Regions from separate parts of the Homo sapiens genome. Here region 1 is linked to region 2. A link means that fine-mapping ties the variant in region 2 to the expression of a gene that starts in the linked region. Tissue or cell type: skeletal muscle. Region 2 holds a variant in brackets; the other region holds the start of a gene. All regions are shown on one strand. Distances are from middle to middle.

Region 1 (8,107 bases), 140 kb before region 2:
TTTTTGTATTTTTAGTAGAGACAGAGTTTCTCCATGTTGGTCAGGCTGGTCTCAAACTCCTGACCTCATGATCTGCCCACCTTGGCCTCCCAAAGTGCTGGGATTACAGGTATGAGCCACTGCGCTTGGCCCACCCCTGGTGGTTTTAAAGAGAGGTGGCTTTAGGAGTCCCAGAAATTCAGAAAAATGTAGAGAAGGTTCTTGTTAGGGTGAGGGGCCCACAGCAATATAGTGGCAGGGTGTGATCCGAAAAGAATGATGGCTACTGAGAAATTCCCTGTGGTGGGAATGGCCAACATTAAATGTGAAGTCGCTTCCTATTCTGTGTCTTGTTTCCTTTGCTTTTAGGGAAGGAGCTGTTCCATCCATAGGAAAGCACAGAGTGGGATGGAAACGGGAACAGGATCAGAGCAAGTGTGCACCCTGGCCAAGTTCCTTTCCAAGAATCCTTGGAAATGTGGAGGAAGGTTCTGGATTTTCCCAACCTCACCAAATCACAATTAGCCAGGACATCCTAATCATGTAGCTCACATTTATTTATTGAGCATCAAGCATATACCAGGCATCTTCATACATTATGAAATTTAATCCTGCAAAGTAGGTATTTTATCCTTAGTTTATAGTTGAGGAACTGAAGCCAGAAAGGTTGGATAACAAGCCTAAGATCGATCAATCAATCAGTTAGTAATAGAGCTGCGACTGAAGCCCAGATCTACCTGACTCCAAAGCCTGTCTTTCCTGCTCCACATTATACTACACCCCTTCTCAGAGATTAAAAAAAAAAAAGCTCTGGCTGCTTTAACTGGTGTACCTCCAGGTCAACCACTTCCATCTCCTTCTCCTCTTTCAGATTTGCACCTGTTCCCTAACCAAAGAGAGGAACAACAGCAATAGTGTTCTGTCGGGATCTGTTCAGAGTTAAGGCCACCAATATTGTTCAGAGAATTCAGTCAGCACACCCCTCCCACCTCAATCTGCTGTCCCATCTCTCCTCTTCATCACCAAACTTTTTTTTCCAAACTTTCTAAATAGTCTCCACTTGCTGTTTGACTTCTTCATCTTCGTCTTTCTCTTTAACCCACTGTACTTTGTCAAGAACTATGAAAGGTCTGAGATTTCATCCTCCTTGCAAGCTAATCACTTAACCTGCTATAGTTTCATGGAAGCTGGCAGAAGACGTGGGGCTTTGCAGTCAAAGGGCTGTATTACTCATGGCACAGCAAGCAGCGCCAGTGTCATGTTCAGTCAGTTCCCTTGCCCCCAGGTCTTACCTGGAGCTACATGGTGTGGTTCAGGTGAGTGATGCACCTGCAGTGGGTTTGCCTCACAGCTGAGAAACTCTATCTAAGCTTAGGAAATCCCCAATCTTTTTATAATAGGCTGCAAGAAAACCTGCTTGACCTTTACCTCCAAAGACATTATCTTCACTATATTGGATGGTAAACAAATGTGCCCCTGCTCTTGGCGGGGAGGGGGAGCAGGGCAGGGGACACTATGTATATTTTCCAAGGCAGTTTGACCAAAAAAAAAAAAAAATCCTTGAAAATATAGTCTAAAACAAAAGCTGTTAGTGCCTCTGCTCACAAGACATGCAGAAATACTAGAGTCCCACAGAGAATTGTCTTCCAGCACATTTCTGCATTTCTTCCCACTAGTCATACAGAAGATTGCTCTCTTGAAAATGATCAGTGATCTAATTTCCCGATCTAACAACCTTCTAGAATCCCAGAAATAAACTCATAGGACAATAATCATTCAAGAAATATTTATTGGGTAGCTTCTATGTGCCAGGCACTGTGCAGGCCCAAATAGACATGGTCTTTATCCTAATGTGGGGAGCAACAGACATTAACCTAGTAGTTACACATACCAAAATGTAGTTACAAGCTGTGGTAAGTCATAAGAGGGGAGGGTATATGGTGGTAAGAGAGCTGACATAACAAGGTATCTTGAATGTATCTGGGAGGTCAGAAATGTTTTTCCCAAGGATGTCGCTTTCAAGCTGAGACCTGAAGGATGAGTAAGAGATAGGATAACTAAAGGAGAGAATGGCATGTACATAGAGCCTTTGGTTGTTGGGATCATAGCATTTTTGAGAAACTAAAAGAAGACCAGGAAGTCTGCCCAGGAAACAAGGTGAAAATGGTGTGAGATGAGGCTGGAAAAGGCAGGTAAGGCCAGACCTCGTATGGTCTTTTAGGCTGCCTTAAGAATTCTAGACTTATCCTAAAGCAATGAGAAACTGTTTAAGGAGATTTTTGGAGTAGTGACATAGTCTCATTTGCTTTCTTAGAGGATAATTTTGGCTGCAAAATGGAGACTGAATGGAGGATCCCAGATTGTATACAGTGAGATCGAATTAGATTGGTGGTGATTGGAAAGAAGTAGACCAATTAGATTTTAGAAATAAAATTGCCAGGAGTTAGTGCTGCAACAAATATGGAGAATGGAAGAATGGAGGTGAGGGAGACATCAGCGGTTACTGACTACTAGATATTTGATTTGAATAACTAGAGAGATGGGGGATAAGGAAAACAAGTGTTCATGAACTCAGTTGGACTAAACTTTGCAACTTTGAGATATTAAGTGGCCATGTCAGTGAAGCTTGGAATTTAGAGGTAGGGTCAAACTTTGACTAGTGGATCAGATTTGGAATTTAGAGGAAAGGTCTGGGCTGGAGGCATATATGTGGAGATCACTGGCATATAGATGATAACTAAAGCCATTGGCGTGGGTGATGCTGCTTAGGCCAAGAGATTACAATGAAAACAGAAAAGAATCTAAAACTGAATTTTAAGGTACTGTTATATTTAATAGTTAGGGAGACCAGCAGGAATATGCAAAGGAATCAGAGAAGCAGTGCCTAGGAAACTAAGGAGGAAAACCAAGAAAATGCAGTGTCAAAGGAAGAAGAAATGTTTAAGAAAGAATAGTGGTCAAAGTGTTGAGTATTGTTGAGAGGCCAAGAAAGATGAGGATTGAAAATGGCTCCCATTTTATTGATAAAAAAAAAGTGAAGCATTGAGAAGAGAACTTGTTCAAAGCCAACATAATTTCTTGACCCTCTCTCTGTTCCCAGAGAACTCATACTGGTGCACATGCTAGGGTCATTTATGTGTGGGTTTTCTTCTCTCCAAAGGCCATAAATTCCTTGGTCTTCACTTTACTTCACCTTACTGCATTGCATATTATTGACTACAATCTCTAGGTCTTCAATAACATTCTTAAATTATGTGTTAATCTCCTTCAAAAACAGCTGATCTTCTTTACTCTGCCTTTACATGTAGGCATGTCCCAAACATATTTTTTTAAATATAGTTTTTAAAAGTGCCATGTCTTGGCCTCTCCCTGGACAAAGGAATCAGAATCTTGAGGGGGTAGATTGCAGGATTCTGTATTTTCAAAAAGCTCCTGAGTAGGAAGCAGAGTAGGAAAGTATTAGCTTAGCGGTAAGTTTGGAAACCACTATCTTAGTCTCAGACCAAGCATAGTTGGGCAGTAAGATGGGGAAGCCACCCCATTCGCCCACACTCTGATAAAATCCTCATACTTTGAAACAATATACAGTTATACTTCAATTATTCCAAGATCAACTTGCCAGCTGTCTCGAAGAGGGCCAAATCCAAAAGTTAAGAAAAGGAAACATCTCTCACAGGGAAAGAACTTCTGATAGTGAAGAGCAATGAAAATATCTCAAGATACCACTGCCCTATTTACAACCAGAAGAAAAGAAACCTCTCATTAGCTGGCTGTGGACATAAACATCCCATCAATCTTCACCTGGAGCCGCAGAGAAAACCAGCCGAGAAAGGAGAGAAGAATGAAAAATAAACAGTAAAGCAGAAAGAATAAGAGGAAGGATCAGAGTGGATAGAGGCAGATGAGGAGATGAAAAGCAGTGAAGGATTTTAGAAGAGGTGATGAGAACATTCCAAAGAGGGAAAAAAAGAGAGCACCAAAGTAGGGATTCTATACACCGCAGCAATCCTCTGGGACTTAAACGTATGGCCAAGATATCGGTTTGAGAGTCAGTTATCAACAAAGGATTTAATTAGCCATTGTATTCTTTAAGAATATAGAGAATAATCACATTTTAAAGAGATTTCTGTAAAACAGTTTTAAAAATACAGCTATTTTAAAAGATCGCACAATTAATACACTGAAATAAAGCCCAGACATGCAACTTGTTACATCCATCACCATTTTTGAAAGGACAGTTCCTGAGGCTGGACTCACCGGCCCAAGTACTACCCCCTCCCCAGGTCTCCGGCGGCAACTGTAAGTCAAAAGCCCTCAGGCATTATTGCAGCGTCCCACATTGTTTGAGGTTCCAGGAAGTCGCTGCTACGCTCACTTGTAAGTCTTCGTGCTGTTGTAAAAATTGAGGTCGTGGTTTTCCACGCGATTTGGCTGGCGAAGAGACCACGAAGCCACCCCCCACGTTTTCAACTGAGTAAATATCTAAATATTTTTGCTTGCTATCCAGATCCTGGGTTCGAAGTCTTTGGGATTAGAAACTTCCAAGCCCATTTCAGAGGCTTCCTAGTCCTTGGGAGGAGTGTCTTTTAAAGCACCTGCCAGCCTTAAGTTCGCGTGCTTTCGGAAAGGGGCCGACAGGGTGCGTCTCAGGGGAGCCTTTTGAAATGTGGATTGAGAATTGTGTGAGTGTCTCTAGGAACCTCCATTAACTCCACTTTTCCTGAGTGTAGCTCCGAGCCTGGCCACAGCGGATGCTACCACAAGCCAGGCGCAGCCGGGCCTCGGGAGAAAGCCGGAAGCCCGAGAGGGTGTGGGCGCTCCGGGAGCCAAACGCGGCCGCTCAGCCGCCACGCGCCGGTGGCCCCGCGGGGACTCGCGTTCCGGTGAGAGAGCCCCGGCGCGGCGGGCTCGAGGCGGGGGTTCGGGGTCCCGGCCGCGGGCTCCGTCGGCGGGGCCCGCGCAGCCGCACTCGGCGCGCCGACTTCGGGCTCCTCCTCCCGGCTCCGTAGTAAGCATGGCGGCGGCGGCGTTCGTGGTCCCTCGGGTGAAACAGAAAGCGGGAGCTACGCGGAGAGGGAGCGAAGAGCGGGGCTGAGGCGGCGGCGTCACTGCCAGGAAACAACCCCAACAGTCAGCGCGCCGGCGGCCGCGGCGGCCCTGAGAGCTGACTCTGCAGCTGAGGTAGAGAGACAACGATCAGGAACCCTAAGAAGAGGCGCCAGAGGAGCCGCCTTCTGCCTCAGAACGGCGTGACTCGGAGGTGAGAGCGCGGGCACTCCCTCCGCGAAAGGCGGGGGACACCGAGCCGTCCCAACCCCGTCCCGCCCCGGAGGAGGCGCCGCGGAAACCGTTAGGCTGGGACTGAGGGCCGGGGCACTCTCCAGGGCTCGGCCCCGTCGAGGGGCGCGGACCACCCCCTTCTGTGGGCGCGCTGTGGGCAGAGGTGCAGAGGGGCAGTGGGGCCGGGGACAGGACCGGTCTACTAGTCGGGCACCTGCCGGGGCCGAGCCTAGCCAGGACACGCTTGCGGGGGCGCGGCCGGGGGCGCCATCCAGCCCAAGAGGAGGCGGCATCTAGCCCGAGGGAGGTGGCGCTGGTGCGCGGGCGGCCCTTCTCTCTGTCCCCCGCCTCCTCCCCGCGGCGAGCCGCGTAGCTCCGGAGGGCTCGGGGGCGGGGGCGGGGGCGGGGGCTGGGGCGGAATCCTCCTGAGAGGATCGCCCAGCACCCGCGGCGCCTTCGGCTTTGGCCGCCCGGCAGCCGCCGAACTTGAACGCTTTTCTGAAGAGAGTTTTCCCCGCTCATCTTGGGGTTAAAACCTCGAAAACCCGCCCTCTGTTTGATCCTGCGTGGCTGCTTCCAGTACCTGGCAGTTCCTCTCCCCGGGCGAGTTAACCACCTGTTCAGTCGGGAGGTGGACTCGAGGCTGCAGTCCTCGCCCGGTTTTAACAACCTGGATCTTCGAACTTTTGACACGGCTTTGGAAACGACGTCATGTGTTAGGTAAAGGAAAATGAACAGATAATTTCGCTGTCAGATTGCGAGCAGAAGAGGGACTGTTTTAATGGATGTGGTCGTTAATTGTTCTTTTATTCAACTGTTAGCGTTACAAGCCTTGGGATATTTTAGAGGGTGGAATGCGATGATTTGCTGGGGGTGCTAGAGATTGTGAATTCGAGATTTTCTTTTGTGAGATTTTACGTAAGTTCCTTTGGACACCTTTGTGTCTGACCATCTATTAAATAAGAGTCGCAGGCTGATGAGATTTTTTTTTTCTTTTTGCGGTATAATCATTATGTGTTCACTATGGGTTTTTAAAACCGAACAACGTAATTATTTTGCTTCTTACTGTGGTCTGTGTTTTTTAGTTCTTGAAACCAAAGTGTGTATGCTTCTGTATTGTAGGAATGAAATAACAGTTGAACTCTTACTATAATATTTTATCACCATGCTGTTACCAGCTCCAGTACTAAACATACGCCACTCAGGAGTTTGAGCCATATGTTAGGCAGAAACGAATTGAGTTTTGTGGTTCTGATCTTATGTTTGGATAAATATTTAGTTTTTGCGTATTTACTAACTCTTGTCATCTTGTGTCACCCACAAATGTTCAAGTGAGTTGAATCCCCTGTCTTTTGGATATTTTCTTGGTTGAATTAATTTTTCTTAAGTAATGAGATGAAGTACTCACTGAGACAGATGGTGGCCCAACAGAAAACAGTGATGAAGGATTTTTACCACATCTTTTATGAAATATAACCTGAAATGTTGCTTTTAGCTTTGTAGCCTACTAATCTTGCTTTCTAATCACACCAGTTAGTGGGAAGAAGGGATGATGACAGGAGAAACATCTTGTTAAAATTTTAATATTAAATCTTATATTTAAATTTTTTAGCACTACTACATTAAATTTTACTATATTGTCTTGTTTCATTTCATAGATCATCTGTTAGTTTTCTATGTGTAGGTTAACTGGAAAATTTTTTATCCCAGGCTGGCTACCGTTAGCCACCTGTATGCTTCTGAATTAACTCCCTCTTTTTCCCTTTTGTCTGAATCCTCCAAATCATTGAATGCTCCGGAAAAATAAAATCCTGGTTAACACTGTCAAGCATAGTTATAAGGGTAATTAATTTATCCCAAATTAATAATAAGCATTAAAAAAAACATTCTAGGATTATCTTCTTTTGGTGACGTCTGTGTCTTCACTTCCTCTATCTGTGTGAGTAATTGAGACCTGATTTATTTTAACACACATGTAATGATTACTCTTTACTAGTCACATTTCTACAATATAATAGTAAGCATATTTTATTACTAATTTAAAAATTTCTCCCTCTTCCCTGACCAGCCAGACATAGCTAAGGGCTGAGACATCCTTAACCCCCCGAAAAAAAGAGGGAATGCATGATTCATATTCTCATTGTCTTTTGTAGTTTTAGGCAAAGAGCATTTAATTTATACTTTATCAATTTTTAGTAATATTTGCGCTGTTTTAAAACATTTGCATTTTTTAAGATGTTCATGACATCCAAGGCTTGTGTATTTTATAATCTGCCAGTATTTTTAAAATACAATTTGATGAAGTAACCAAAAACGTTTTTTTTTTGAAACATTGTTGGTGCATTTTTGAATGAAAATGAATCTAGATCGTGTCTTTGAGAATGGTGTAGGGATATGCACATGATTTCCAATTTTATTAGCCAGATAACTAAGTGATTAGTGTTTCTGGTTTTTTTTTGTTTGCTTTTGTTTTTTTTGTTTTGTTTTTAGCATTGCCTAGCGGACTTCAAATAAACTCACAATATTGTAATTCCGAAGGTTTAGAATATGGTGCATATTTATTCCATTGAGCCTTTTACTGCTTCAGTTTATCACATTGCAAAACAAGAAATATGGCTCCCATATGTGTGAATGTCAAAAACTACTTGTTAAAACGAAATTAGTGGCCATTAATGTTGAAAGGCAAATTTTGTACTTTTACATGTATTGTGAGCTTTTATAATTTTCTTAATATTTTGGTCTTATTTCAGATAATTATTCAGTGGTCTCTTTTTATATCTTTATTCTTACCTTTCTGTCTTCCCACTGTTGTGGTTTTGCTTGTCTTTAATATATACTTTCAAGTTTT
Region 2 (8,107 bases):
CAGGAGAAAAGGGAGATCACTATGAAGAACAAATGTAGAAGAAAGAGAACTGGAGAGATGAAAGAAAGATATGATGGCCACATGAAAGTTTGATATTTCAAAGATGAGATAGTGGAGTTCTAAGTAATAAGTTCCAGGATGTATCTTTGAACATGGGTTACTAAAAATAGAATGAAAGACACGAGTTCAAGGAATTTTAAGCCTAGATTTTGGACATTAAAGTCATGCTGATAGACAAGAGTTGGGATAGAGAACAAAATTGATCACAGCGCCAAAGTTCTCAATAAATGAGGACTCAGCCTTAAAGCATTGAGAAGGGGTAGAGGGTTGTATGCACATATGCCGTGATCTCAAGGAAGAAGGAACTTTAGCATGAAACAGGAACAACAGTGGTGAAGGGAAGCAGCCTTGGAGTATCTGCAGACTACCAACACTGCTTCAGGAGAGGATAGGAAGTCTCTGCTCCTGGGGCATGCTGGGGAAAGTTTTCTACAGGACATCCATGCTTCATTTCAAGGCAACACAGGAACAAGTGTTCTGTAAAAAGGTTGAGGATATAGGAGAATTTATTTATAATGGAAAAAAACTTTCTAGTGAGCATAATGGAAAGGATTGAAAGGAGATGATAAGTTAAATAGTCAAGAAATAGAAATACAGGCTGTGTGCAAATGTGAGCCAAAATAAGAAGGTGGGCTGCAGAGGCTTGCTTTTTGTTTAGGGGCTGAAGATCAGAGACATGGTCGGATTTACAGGGGGGCTGGGTCTAACGTATATGAGTACATTCTGTTGAGACCAGGAGACTCCTTGCCCTTTGGTCTCGTTTTTCAGGGCAACCCTGCCTTTTCATAGGAATTTTGAAGTTAACAATTACCTTTCCCCACTTGTAAGAATAGGCCCTTACTGTCTTATCTCCTCTGGGGTGTCTTACATATATTTATTGAGACCTATTTCTCTAGGTTATCCTTTGCCAGTTGTTTTCCACCTTTGTGTGAGATGGGGCCTTTGAACATAGTTTACACTTTTTGAAAAGTATAGCCTTATTATTAGATAATCCTGCCTTTGCCTCGCTTTGTGCCCTTGGCATGTTACTCTGCTTCAGTTTTCTTACCTGGAAATGATGCTCACTTCACTTGTTAGGATTAAGTGAGTTAACGCAAGTAAAACACTCCAAATGATGCCTAGTATGTACTCTGCACTATGTGGTTATTTTTGAAAACATGGTGATCATACTTTTACATATTATAACTATTTACTGAGTATCATCAACCAATATACTTGATACTTTAAATTTATTTAATTTCATTCTCACAACAATGCTATGATGTTGATTAACCTTGTCACTGAAATAAGCTAAGACTTCAGAGAAGAGCAGTAAATTGCCTTGCTAATAAATACTGAAGCTGTTATTAAAATATATCTTTTAATACCAAAATTCACTTTCTTTCCACTGTACAACTTGTTACAAACCACTGTCATTATCATTACCTGTATATTTTTGTTAGCTGTTAATAAATTTCCTCTGAAGTTACATAGCACCATAAAGTAATGAAAGATCTCCAAAAGTTCTTATTCTTTCCTGTTGTAACTGGACATCTTTGGTCTCCTTTCTGGTCTCTACTTGTTCTTGGATAGAGAACTCTGAACCTGCACCTGAGGCTGTCTTTTCAGATTCGTGGATATGAGTAAGAATGCCATCTACTGAGCACCTGCACTTTAATTTAAATCTTAAATTTAAAAAAATCAGAAAGAAAATAAAACCAATAATGAAAGTGGTAGTCTTTATTCTCTTAAGAGGCAAATAACAGCCTGAAACATAAATCCCACCTTTGAGACACATGTCTATCAAACCTATATTCTATACACAATTATTTGTGTATTGTGGATATTCCTTAAGGATTGAGTATGGAGAATTACGTTATACAATGACATTTCAGACTGAATCTTTTAAATTAATATTATCTCAAATGTTCTAAATGAAAATTAGCGGCAGGCTGCATGAGTAAAAAATTAGAAGATAGCACCTGTGGTGTTATTGAACACAAAGAGAATCATTGTACATCAAATATATATTTCTGAAAAGTATACTTTGATGAGCTTTTGAATTGGTTCATAAGGAAGTCTGAAAGATGGTCAAATTCAGGGCAGCAGCAGTAGAAATCATTTAATCTTTTTTTTCCCCTATATCAGAAATGCTGCAAGCGGGAACGTTTGCTTTTTTTTCCCCCTTGCCCTTTCCTGGGTCACTGCAGGTCACGTGATGACTGTCACGTGACTCGGTCAAAGGATCTTTTCCTCTTACAGCCTTGCAAAAAAAAAAAAAGCCGTTCTCCAATTAAAGCTGTTAACGTGTACTACGCTGTTTCCTTGTTGGATTTTCTTGTTCTCTGCTGCTACTGTAAAAACGAAATGAGTGGTAAGATTTGCTGTTTTCGAACATTCTGCTTTTATTTTAAGACAGAAAGCATTGTATTAATCTAAAGTCATGCCGTGTGTTTTTAAAAATAGATGCTAAATATCATCGCCATAAAATATTTTAAATTGTTGCCATGTAAATACAAAAAGGTTAGACTATGTAGAGTTATTTTGTAATTTTGTATTCCACGGAATATTCCATTCTAGGATCTTTATTTTACTAGGTTTTTCTTCTAGAGCTAAAATCTGAAAATTGGCATCAGATTATTTGGAAGCCATTGTGAACGCTGGCTTATAGAGAATGTGTAGCACAGCGGCAGCACGTTGCATTTTAAGAATTAAAACTCCTGGACAAATTTGTAATTTTATTTAAAAAAAACCTCTTAAATATGAATGTATATTAACAAGGAAAGATAAAGAAGAATTTAAGTTATACTAGTTGAAATATCTTCTTTAAGTCAGTGATGGCACTTTTTAAGAAGCAGGGGTGGGGAGCTTCTCAAATTTCTTAAGACAATTGGTTAGAATTGTTTACTCTTCTGCAGGTTTTTGAAATAGGAAATGTATCCTTAATAGCTCCATGATTGGGGTAAATCATGCTCAAATCACATAGATTATAAAGGAGCTGCTAAGTGTATGCACAGTTGTTGTCAGGTATTGCTACTCTTGTGCCAGGCATACATTTGTCAATAGGATCTGAGTTTCTTCCTTGGGACAAAATCTCCCTCATTGCATACAAATTTAAGTCAGTTTGTAGTTAATTTTCTGTTACTTTCTAAATTAAAAAGTATTGTTGGAACTAAGGAGCTAATCAAACATTTACATCATTAAATATGCAAGGCTTTAAGGTTTCGCTACTATAGACACAGGAGTAACAACAGACATGAGATGCTGTAAACGTTGTAGTTCTAAACATCGATACTTGTATTTATTATGTTTATACAATAGGGGTTTGCATTCAGTGTTGAATGTTACTTCACAGCAATATTTTAGGCATTAAATATGATACCGATAAATTGTCTTTTTAAAAGAAAATCTGGCCGGGCATGGTGGCTCACACCTGTAATCCTAGCACTTTGGGAGCCCGAGGCAGGTGGATCACCTGAGGTTAGGAGTTCAAGACCAGCCTGGCCAACATGGTGAAACCCCGTCTCTACTAAAAATACAAAAATTAGCCGGGCGTGGTGGCACATGCATGTAATCCCAGCTACTCGGGAGGCTGAAGCAGAAGAATCACTTGAACCCAGGAGGAAGAGGTTGCATTGAGCTGAGATAGCGCCACTGCACTCCAGCCTGGGCAACAGAGTAAAACTCCGTCT[C/CA]AAAAAAAAAAAAAAAAAATCTAACCATGTACAATTTCTGCCTCAGGATAAAAAAAAAATTTTTTTGCTAGAGTGAAAGGATTACTTCGTAAAGAAGTAAGTTAATCAGTCTTTTTCCTGGACTACATCTAGTAATATATTTACTACTGGTTTATTTTAGCTTACATTTCTCTTTTCAGCATCACACTTAGATATAATTAAAAAACAAAGTAGAATCTTGTATTACCAAATTATAAACTATTTTAGCGGCTATCAAAGTATAAAATGGTTTGAATTGTAACTACATATATATTCGTATTTCTGGTAAAAGGAGGGCCACTTGAAGCAATTGTGTGATTTTACTATTTTAAATGTAATTAGCAATAACTTATTATTCTGATGGCAAAAGAAAAACCTATTCTGATGACTTGATGTAAGGATTAAATTTGACAGCATATAAAAGGACCCACAGTAAAAGTGCAATGCTAATGGCCTTTATTAACATTATAAAATATGATTTTCAGTGAATTCTCTGTCAAGTTCTCAGCTGAATTTCACATATTGTAAGTAATACCTAAGCCACCTGTAAGGATTCAGGAAGTTAGTTTACTGTAGTTTTATATAAATTAGCTAATGGAAGTAAACCAGCATTAGTTTAAAACAGTTCTCATTTCTCTTGAGTCTAGAATATAGGAGCTAAAAGGTGAGTTTTGCATGAAGCTTTTCTGCCTAGAGGTATAAAGCAGCTCACAAGTTTTATTCAGTAAATTAATAGGTAATGTTTGCTTAAACTTAAGAAAATTTTATTCTTTCTCTCATGTTTTTACGGATGTAAAGACAACAAAGGCCTTAATTTTCCTTAGAGGCTTTAGAGCATTGTTCTTAAGCCTCAAATTATATCAGTTGCCAATACTGCATAGTATTTTAATGTTTACTAAAAATGTGGTAAGGATATGTCCTTAGAAATAAAACTACCTGGTTTTGAATCCCACTTCTACCACTTGGGGAGCTTAACCTCTCTGTGCCTCAGTTTCCACATCTAGAAAATGGAGATGATGATGATGATGATATTTACCTGATAGAATGATTATGAGGAGAAAAAATATGTAAAAGGCCTGGCACATAGTAAGTTAGTATTAGCTATATATAATTAAAATAATATTCTGGACAACTTCATGTATTTGGTGGTGGTCTTGTTTTGGATGGGAAGAGTATCTTATTGAAAAGTTCTTTTCACAGCCAGATATTATATAGTGTAATTTAGTGTTCTACACAAACACTTCTTACTTTCTCTCAACCACTTCAGTCTTATCCCTACTTTCTCTTCCCCTCCCCACCTCTTCTGTCCTTTCCCTCCCCTCCCCCTTTCTCCTATTTCTCCACATCGTTCCTCCTCCCCCTTACCCTTCTGTTTTCTCCTCTCCCTCCCTTCTTGTCTTCTCTTCACTCTCCTTTACTGCCTCTTGTCCCCTTTCTTATCCCTCCCTTTTCTTCTCTTACCTCTCGCCTCTCTCCTTCTCTCCCCTCTTGCCTTTCTCCTCTCCTTGCTTGCTTCCCCCTTTTTTCCTCCACTTTCCCCACTTTCCTTACCCCTGTTTAGTATTTTCCGTCACCCCGTTTAGTAGTTTCCCTCTTACACCCCCTTTCTTTTGTATTCTCTTTTCTCTTCCCTAGCTCTCTCATCTCCCTAGCCCTAATTTCATCACCACTGTGTGGTTCTGTCCTCACCCCTTGCCTTCCCTAGAAAGGGCAGAATGGCTGTAATCCGGATTTGTTGTGACCTCCATGTCCTTTATTCTGATTTTCTGAAGTATGTATAATATTAACAGAGTTACTTGTTTTCTACCCTACATTTGAGCTTTTCCTCCTTTATTTCTTTTATAGCTGAGAGCCATTATATAATGGTAGATTATAATTCTGCATATAAAAGAGATCCTTCCCCCTTTACATTCCTCATCAGACCTTTGTTCTTATTCCCTTAGAAATAAGTAATTTCTTTGAAAAGGTTTCATTTCAGGTTATAAAAAACTGGTGGGCATGAGGGGACACTGCAGTGTAAAGTTACAGGAAGAAAGGAACTGAAGGGGGGTAAGAGACTTTTTTAAAAGTTACATAAAGCAACTAAGATTTTAGTTCCTAGAAAGAACAAAACACACCTTCTCCAAATGCTTCTTTTGTTCCCAGAAATGTTAAAAGAGAAGGTAAACTAGAGATAATAGTTATAAAAGTTAATTGGAAAACCTAACACTATAAAAGTGAAAGGAAGTGTAGAGTGAGAGAAGCTGAATTTTCTTTTTTAGAACTTTTTAGTGTGAGAAACAAAAAAAAATTTTTTTTTCCTTTGGGTAAGTACACGTGTGGCATTTCTCTTTGTTCTTAAGCCCCCATAGACATGAGTCACACATTACACAAGTATTTTAACCCTAACAAAGCAAGTTCCAAATTTCTAACTATTCTTCCTCTTGCTGCTTTTCACTCTTGCTTTTTTATTTTGTCCCTGTAACTTTTGAAAATTTTGCCTTTTGTATTTTTCATTGATTTTATATGCAGAGTTTAGTTTGATTTTTCTCTAGGTCAGTGTTTCTAAACTTACACTATTATAAGAGTCACCTGGGATATTTGTAAAGTGAATATAATGATTCAAGACCCCATTGACTAAGAATCTCTAGGAGAGCCTGTTAATATGTTTTAAAAAGCCCTCCAACCTCCCCGCCCCCCACCACCCCTACCCCAGCAACTTTAAAAAACACAAATGTAGGTAAAGGGTAATTTGTGCACTTTACAAGATAAATTTTTATAACAAGTCAATCATCTGAATTTCTTTTTATAAAAATGTAGTTACTGTTGGCTTGAGTGTTTAGATGAAGTATTCAAAATGTAATTCAAATTGTTTTCAACTTTAGCCTGATAAGCAATCATGGGTTAATACATCATTTATGTGACCCATTCAGGTCCTGCTCAGGTTCCAATGATGTCCCCAAATGGTTCTGTGCCTCCTATCTATGTGCCTCCTGGATATGCCCCACAGGTATGTTTTTATGCTATTTTTCTTTTCATATTTGTATAATAGTGATAATGTTATTCTCTTTGACTTTGATTTTGATTTAAAAAAACCATTTAATTACTGAGGCTTACCAAGTGTTGTGTATCTATCATAAATCTATTTCAAGTATTTTAGTACATTTGGAAAGGAAGAAAAATTTTTATTGGCAGCACTCATCATTTGTCCTTGTCTTTGGGTGTTAAGTCACAAAAGAAAATTCATTCTAGAGTTTTGTCTCCCTAAATATATGACTAAATAAAAATAATATTTTAGGTTGTAAAGGTGCCTACACTGACATTTTTAAATTTAGAAATTTGCTTAGATGTAACCCAAGACAATGCTTCCAACTTTATTCATACAATGAATCTCAGACACTGTTGATAATTGCATGGCATATTGTGTTCAATAGAAAAGAGTTTAGCAACCCTGAGGGATGAGGGGGGGGGGGAAATAAAAAAAAAAAATCAGTATCTCCATACACCTGTAACCTTTTATGCATAATGACTGGGAAGCTCTGACCTTAAGTATAGTAATTTATGAACACAGGCAAACTGAATTAAACTGTAAAATCTGCAGGTGTTCAATATCTTCCACTACTGAGATTTCGTATGGTCTGCACGCTTTGCCTCAATCTATTTTGGGAAATAATCATTTTCTCTCCCTAGCATTGAATTTACACTTGAAGTTTTTCTTCAGGCCCTCTGTTACTTCCTCCCTGATTATGCCAGAATATTGGTGGTGGGATATTGGGGTGGATTTTCTGCACACTCTGTGAAGCACACCATCATATGAACCACAGCAAAAGAAGAGCGTGCTGGGAAGGAGAGAATGGAATGAGATTTAGAATGGATTCAGAAAAGCTGAATCCATATCTTATTTCAAACCTTTGCTGGCTGCATGGTCTTGGGCAAATCAACTTCCTTCAGTCTCAGTGCCTTCATTATGAGATGAGATCACGTACTGAAATTACCTTGTAAGCTTTTCAGAGTAGTCTCTACTAACTATCTCTACTTTTGTTTAGCACACTGACTCCTTAATATAGTCTGCATTCTGTCTATATTACTCTACTAAAACTGCTTTCCGCTATGTACCAAATCCAAAGTCCTGCTTTCCAGCCTGGTCCTCTTTGACCTCTAAAAATTTGGTACCACTGATAAGATTTACTACAGATTTCCTTGACATCATGCTGCCCTGATTTTTGTTTTCTACTTCTTTGTTGCACCTTCTCAGATCTTCCTTCTCTTACATGAAGACTGTTCTCTAGCATAGTTCAGTTCATGATTTATTGAGTGGCACCACGTACTGAGCTCTGTATTGGGAGCTAGTGATAAAAAGATGATTAAGACAAGTTCTT

Alleles and levels. Positions count from the first base shown, and alleles are read on the strand shown. Sizes are in standard deviations (SD) of each study's normalised expression.
As copies of C replace CA in region 2, the expression in skeletal muscle of the gene that starts at base 4,974 in region 1 goes down (large effect, 1.2 SD a copy in FUSION).

What was found. PIP is the estimated chance that this variant, and not a neighbour inherited with it, causes the effect.
Region 1: it holds the start of FNDC3A, and the variant in region 2 is fine-mapped to the expression of FNDC3A in skeletal muscle (FUSION, PIP 0.95).

Annotation. Positions count from the first base shown.
Region 1 is chr13:48,970,939-48,979,045 of GRCh38, forward strand. FNDC3A (fibronectin type III domain containing 3A) reads left to right here and starts at 4,974. Exons shown (of 26, transcript NM_001079673.2): 1 at 4,974-5,239. RefSeq lists enhancers at 4,179-4,238, 4,509-5,128, 4,939-5,238, 5,129-5,748, 5,909-6,008 and silencers at 4,689-4,958, 5,289-5,768.
Region 2 is chr13:49,107,994-49,116,100 of GRCh38, forward strand. It overlaps FNDC3A (fibronectin type III domain containing 3A), which reads left to right. Exons shown (of 26, transcript NM_001079673.2): 4 at 6,662-6,738. Among named protein-coding and RNA genes, the nearest start is that of MLNR, 110 kb to the right of the region's middle. RefSeq lists enhancers at 4,825-5,329, 5,330-5,833. The variant C/CA (reference allele first, on the strand shown) is at 3,732.